2 separate regions of the Homo sapiens genome follow, and region 1 is linked to region 2. Evidence: fine-mapped QTL for protein levels in blood plasma. A gene starts in region 2. The other region holds a variant in brackets. All regions are shown on one strand. Distances are between the middles of the regions.

Region 1 (2,900 bases), 23 kb after region 2:
GTCTGTCTCTACATCTCTCATCTCACCAGTCTGAGAGAACAGAATCAGCCTACAGCAGGCAACTTGGGACTGTTTTCATTTTTTTTAATTTATTTTTATTATTTTGAGACAGAGTCTCACTCTGTTGCCTAGGCTGGAGTGCGGTGGCACGATCTTGGCTCACTGCAACCTGCTTCCCAGGTTCAAGCAATTCTCCTGCCTCAGCTTCCCAGGTAGCTGGGATTACAGGCATGCACCACCACACCCAGCTAATTTTTGTATTTTTAGTAGAGACTGGGTTTCGTCATGTTGGCCAGGCTGGTCTTGAACTCCTGGCATCAAGTGATCCGCCCGCCTTGGCCTCCCAAAGTGCTGGGATTGTGGGTATGAGCCACTGCGCCCTGCCTTGGAACTCTTTTTACATTTAAGCTCAAAAGACATAGAAAAAGAGAAGCAGACACTATTCAGATACTGGGTCCCTTGGCCACTTTCCCTCAGGCTTTAGACAGATGGGCCTGTGGACACTCTAAGAGTCTGAAACTAAGCAGCTAGCCCCAGCTGGACATATGGTAAGAAAAGCAAAAAGCCCGCCTGACCACTCGCCTCACTTTCTCCCCAGCCTATGGAACCCAGATTTCCAGAAAAGAACAAACAACTAATCTTTCTTCATCCTACCTAAAGCCCTAAGCCTATAATGGACTGGAAACAGTTTCCCAAAACTGCTTCCTATCATTCCAGAAGCACAGTGCTCATGGTGCCTGGGCACTCCCAGAAGGTGGCTTCAAAGAAGCAGGCTTAAACCCCCAACTCCCAACCCCACCCTGATCCCACCCTAGGGCCATATTCATCAAATACTAGGAGCCGACTGACTCAGAGAGGTGGTGTGAAATTTCCCTCCTGTTCACGTTCTGGAAGGGGTGTGTGGAACAGTTTTTTCCATGTGGGTTTGAGCTCTGGGTATGGAGGTGGCCAATCAAAGTTGTATACCAGTGCAAGGAGCTAGAGGTATTTGAGATCACATTTGACAGGTGCCAGGTTTGGCTACACCAGTGCAGCTTTCCACATCCTTCTGGGTTCTCCTCGTCTCTATGCTGTTCTCAACACCCACATACCTCAACTCCTCAACCACACTTTTGAAATAGAGTTGCCAGATGAAGCAAACACCCTTGAAAATCCCAATGTACAGACATTTCTGTCTGCCTAAACAGCTAATTTATTGAGAACTTTGAGGCAACTTGCTTAATTACTTGCTTTGTTTTTTTCGTGTCTGCCACCTGGGGTGCCCACTTCAGTCTCCAAGGCATCATCGTGACCTGGGCTGGGCAGCCACTGGTCTAAGGGTGTCCTTCTGTTTCTATCACAGTTATGGCTACAATGACATTGTCACCATCCCAGCTGGTGCCACTAATATTGACGTGAAGCAGCGGAGCCACCCGGGTGTGCAGAACGATGGGAACTACCTGGCGCTGAAGACGGCTGATGGGCAGTACCTGCTCAACGGCAACCTGGCCATCTCTGCCATAGAGCAGGACATCTTGGTGAAGGGGACCATCCTGAAGTACAGCGGCTCCATCGCCACCCTGGAGCGCCTGCAGAGCTTCCGGCCCTTGCCAGAGCCTCTGACAGTGCAGCTCCTG[A/G]CAGTCCCTGGCGAGGTCTTCCCCCCAAAAGTCAAATACACCTTCTTTGTTCCTAATGACGTGGACTTTAGCATGCAGAGCAGCAAAGAGAGAGCAACCACCAACATCATCCAGCCGCTGCTCCACGCACAGTGGGTGCTGGGGGACTGGTCTGAGTGCTCTAGCACCTGCGGGGCCGGCTGGCAGAGGCGAACTGTAGAGTGCAGGGACCCCTCCGGCCAGGCCTCTGCCACCTGCAACAAGGCTCTGAAACCCGAGGATGCCAAGCCCTGCGAAAGCCAGCTGTGCCCCCTGTGATTCAGGGGGGCAGGGGCCAGTCTTGTGCTCCTGGACATGCGGTACTGAGGTGCAGACAAGGGTCTCCACTGTGGTGACTGGGTCCCTTGGCCATATCAAGGCAGCACGGCCCACCCAGGCCTCCCATTGCCGCAACCCCTCCAGTACTGCACAAATTCCTAAGGGGGAAGAGGAGAGGGTATGGGGCGGCAGACCCTATCATCAACTGTCCAGTGGACTGGACCTTGCTCGGGTTCAAGTAGAGGGCATAGGTTAAAAGGTAAAAGTGCACTTATTGACTCAGACAGGACACTCAGCGTCAGTCTGTTTGCAAAGGACTAGCAAACTTAAATGAAAAAAAAAATTCTATCTGGTTTCCCCGATAAATAATCTACCTCACAGGGGAAAAAATTAGTACAAGAGAGGCGTGGGGCAGGGAGTCAATGGTGAATGTCAAAGCAGGCTCCAAAGCTGGACCCCAAGCTGTCTTCAAGAATGACCACGACTGTCTTCAGTGTTAAAATCCATCACCTAAAGGGCCGCAGCGTCGCAGGGTTTGGAGAGCCACATGTTCTCAGGCTGCCACCTGCAGGGGTGGATCCATTTCAAGTATTTATGCAAATGTGTCTCTGAACTAAAGTGTGATCTTATGCCAATGCAGTGGTCTGGTCTGATTCATTGTTTCTTTGGAAAGGGCAGCAACCTAGAACCCAGGGATGGAGGCTGAAACTAGGTCAGCAGCTGGATCCCTGCCTGCTCTGGGTCCTCACAGGCCTGCAGAATCCAGCTCATTCGGGCAACTTTCATTTGCAGGATCTAGACCAGTGGTTCCCAAGGTTTCATTAGGATCACGTAGAGGGCTGTGAAAATGGATTGTGAGGCTGGGCACAGTGGCTCACACCTGTCATTCCAGCACTTTGGGAGGCTGAGGCAGGAGGATTGCCTGAGCCCAGGAGTTCAAGACCAGCCATGACAATATGGCGAGACCCTGTTTCTATAAAAAATTAA
Region 2 (2,900 bases):
AGGTAAAAACCAGTCATTGAACTGTTACAATAGCCCTGAGGCAACACAGAGTTGTATTCATTGCTTGCCCAGGTCAGACTGTCCCAAGCACTGTACAGGATGTCCCAAGCACTGTACACTGTGCTAGGACGAAGTGTTTTGCTTGTTTTGAGAAAAGGGTTGAAGAGACCATTCTTTCCATTGTCCTTCCTCTAGAAGTGTTTCCCCAAAACATTCTAGACTCGTTATTCCTATCCTATAAATTATGCAGGAAAGGAGGTTCTGCACCATGCTAGGTTGGGAAGTTCATCCTTTCATCTAATTCACAGCTGTCCCTCTGTGTTTCTGAGAAAGCAAAGAGAGGGGGGATACTTAGAGGGAATTTGGCAGCACTTTCCCCTGGGCAAGAGCCTCCTCTTTGGAGGTAACAAGCCCTGAGAGTCTCAGATGCATGCTGAACCACCACACTGCAGGAAGGGGTCAGATGGGCTGAAAAGAATCAGCGATGACCTCGACTGTCAACATCCCCAGCATAAGCACAGAGCTGGGTACCTGGGGGCAGGTGAATTGGCAAAGGATTTAAAGGCCCTGATCCCAGCGGTTCCTAATGCATCACCCACATTGACAACTCAGAGAAAGGCACAGTTGGTGGATGAGTCTAGAGTTTGTAGGTAGAGAACAGGGCCCTCCACCCAATCCAGACCTGTGTCATTGAGACTGGGATGGGATGCAGTTTTGTGGTCTTGAGACCATGTCATCCCTCTCTTCCTGAATACTACCCCCTTCCCTAGGGGGCAGTGGTGACATGGGACAGAATAAATTCACCTCATACACATTTGTTCCTGGGGCTGTGGCAACGCAGTGAAAGGGCCTGCCACCTTACTTGAAGTCCCGGGCAACTAGCAGTATCCAGAAGAGAAGACCTTTTTCAGGGACTGGAGGTCTGTTTCCCTCTTGGGGAAATGCTAACTTCCAACCTCAGTGCTGGTAACTTACCACTGTGCTGGCCTCTGCCCCACCTGCCCTCTAACAGGACAGTGAGAGTCCCTCTTAGGGTTAACCAGGTGGGTTGTTTTTTGTTTTGTTTTTGTTTTCCCCATCTTCAGTTTGGAGTGAAAGTTAGGAAGGCTGTGCAGTAGTGATGAGAGGAGGGCATGATTTTAGCATGACCTTTTCCTCCTCTCCCTTTATGCTTTACAATGAAAAGCTCAGGAACCTTCTCCCCACACAGTCGGATCTCCGGAGGCATCTGCAGGGATCCCAACAGTGTCGGGCTCTGCAGTCGGACTCTGCAGGGATCCGAACAGGGTCGCTGAGACCAGTGCACGAGCCTCTTCGGAAGATGCATCCTGGACTCTTGGCCGCAGAGGAGAAAGCGGTTGGGGTCTCCCAGGGACTCTTTCTAAAGGGTCAGTCCAGCATGGTAGGGGTTAACGTGGGTCCACGCGTAGAGGGAAAGGAAAGAAGTTGTAGTTGACACTTCAGGGGGGCGGGTGGCGGACGGGTCTCGCTGCCTGATTGGTTTTGCATTTCATCCCAATTTTTTTTTCTCCACTCTCTCTCCCTCTTTTCAGTTTCTCTCTCTGATCCCAGGGGAGGGGAAACGGGAATAGTGAGAGATCAAAAATAAACCTCTTATGTCAAGCCGGGAAGGAAGTATAAATAAGAAGGGCTCGGCAGCCCACTCGGTGCTTCCCGGGGTGGGGAGGAGGCAGGAGGCGGCTGCGCGGGGCTGGCGCGGGCAGGGGCGGAGGACGGGCGCACGCGGGCCGGGGCCAGCTGCTCGCGCTCGGCTCGGGGGCGGCGGCGCGGGAGGAGCGGGCTGCGCCAGCCAGAGGGGCCGCCGGGGGAGCGCTCCCGCCGCCGGGCCCCGCGGGCCGAGTCGGCCTTGCACCCGATTGATTCCGCTTTTCCTGGAGAGAGCGGCCGGGCCGCGCTCGGGCCGCCAGCACCTGCCCGCGCCTGGCGGGCTTCTTCCCTCTCCTGCGCGCAGCCACCGCCGCAGCCCCCATGCTCCCCGCCCCCGCCGCCCCCCGGTGGCCTCCGCTCCTGCTGCTGCTGCTGCTGCTGCTGCCGCTGGCCCGCGGCGCCCCGGCCCGGCCCGCAGCCGGGGGGCAGGCCTCGGAGCTGGTGGTGCCCACGCGGTTGCCCGGCAGCGCGGGCGAGCTCGCGCTCCACCTGTCCGCCTTCGGCAAGGGCTTCGTGCTGCGCCTGGCGCCCGACGACAGCTTCCTAGCGCCCGAGTTCAAGATCGAGCGCCTCGGGGGCTCCGGCCGGGCGACCGGGGGCGAGCGGGGGCTGCGCGGCTGCTTCTTCTCCGGCACCGTGAATGGGGAGCCCGAGTCGCTGGCGGCGGTCAGCCTGTGCCGCGGGCTGAGCGGCTCCTTCCTGCTGGACGGCGAGGAGTTCACCATCCAGCCGCAGGGCGCGGGGGGCTCCCTGGCTCAGCCGCACCGCCTGCAGCGCTGGGGTCCCGCCGGAGCCCGCCCCCTCCCGCGAGGACCCGAGTGGGAGGTGGAGACGGGAGAGGGTCAGAGGCAGGAGAGAGGAGACCACCAGGAGGACAGCGAGGAGGAGAGCCAAGAAGAGGAGGCAGAAGGCGCTAGCGAGCCGCCACCGCCCCTGGGGGCCACGAGTAGGACCAAGCGGTTTGTGTCTGAGGCGCGCTTCGTGGAGACGCTGCTGGTGGCCGATGCGTCCATGGCTGCCTTCTACGGGGCCGACCTGCAGGTAGGACTGAGAGCCTCCTCCAGCCGCCGTGCCCGGAGGCCCCCCAGACGCCTCCCAGCGTCTCTAAAATCTCCCCTTCCAATCCCTCTGAGAAAAAAAAAAAAAAAAAAAAAAAGCCCTCCCCACTCATCTTCTCCAGCCTTACCCCAAACGAGATTCTCTCCTGTCTGAGAAAGAGCAGTAACTCTTTT

Alleles and levels. Positions count from the first base shown, and alleles are read on the strand shown. Strength reflects both the effect of a copy and how common the allele is.
For the plasma level of the protein whose gene starts at base 1,667 in region 2, allele A in region 1 goes with a higher level than allele G (strong association).

Evidence for each region. PIP is the posterior inclusion probability: the model's chance that the variant is causal. The UK Biobank Pharma Proteomics Project read protein levels with antibody pairs (Olink). The fine-mapping took linkage between variants from a reference panel, not from the people measured, so its PIPs are less certain.
Region 1: its variant is fine-mapped to the plasma level of the ADAMTS8 protein (UK Biobank, PIP above 0.99). The variant lies in the coding sequence of ADAMTS8. If it changes the protein, the assay may bind it differently, which can mimic a change of level.

What each region holds. Positions count from the first base shown.
Region 1 is chr11:130,404,571-130,407,470 of GRCh38, reverse strand. ADAMTS8 (ADAM metallopeptidase with thrombospondin type 1 motif 8) reads left to right here. Exons shown (of 9, transcript NM_007037.6): 9 at 1,343-2,548. The coding sequence ends at 1,913. Among named protein-coding and RNA genes, the nearest start is that of ADAMTS8, 23 kb to the left of the region's middle. The variant A/G (reference allele first, on the strand shown) is at 1,617.
Region 2 is chr11:130,427,376-130,430,275 of GRCh38, reverse strand. It overlaps ADAMTS8 (ADAM metallopeptidase with thrombospondin type 1 motif 8), which reads left to right and starts at 1,667. Exons shown (of 9, transcript NM_007037.6): 1 at 1,667-2,709. The coding sequence starts at 1,990.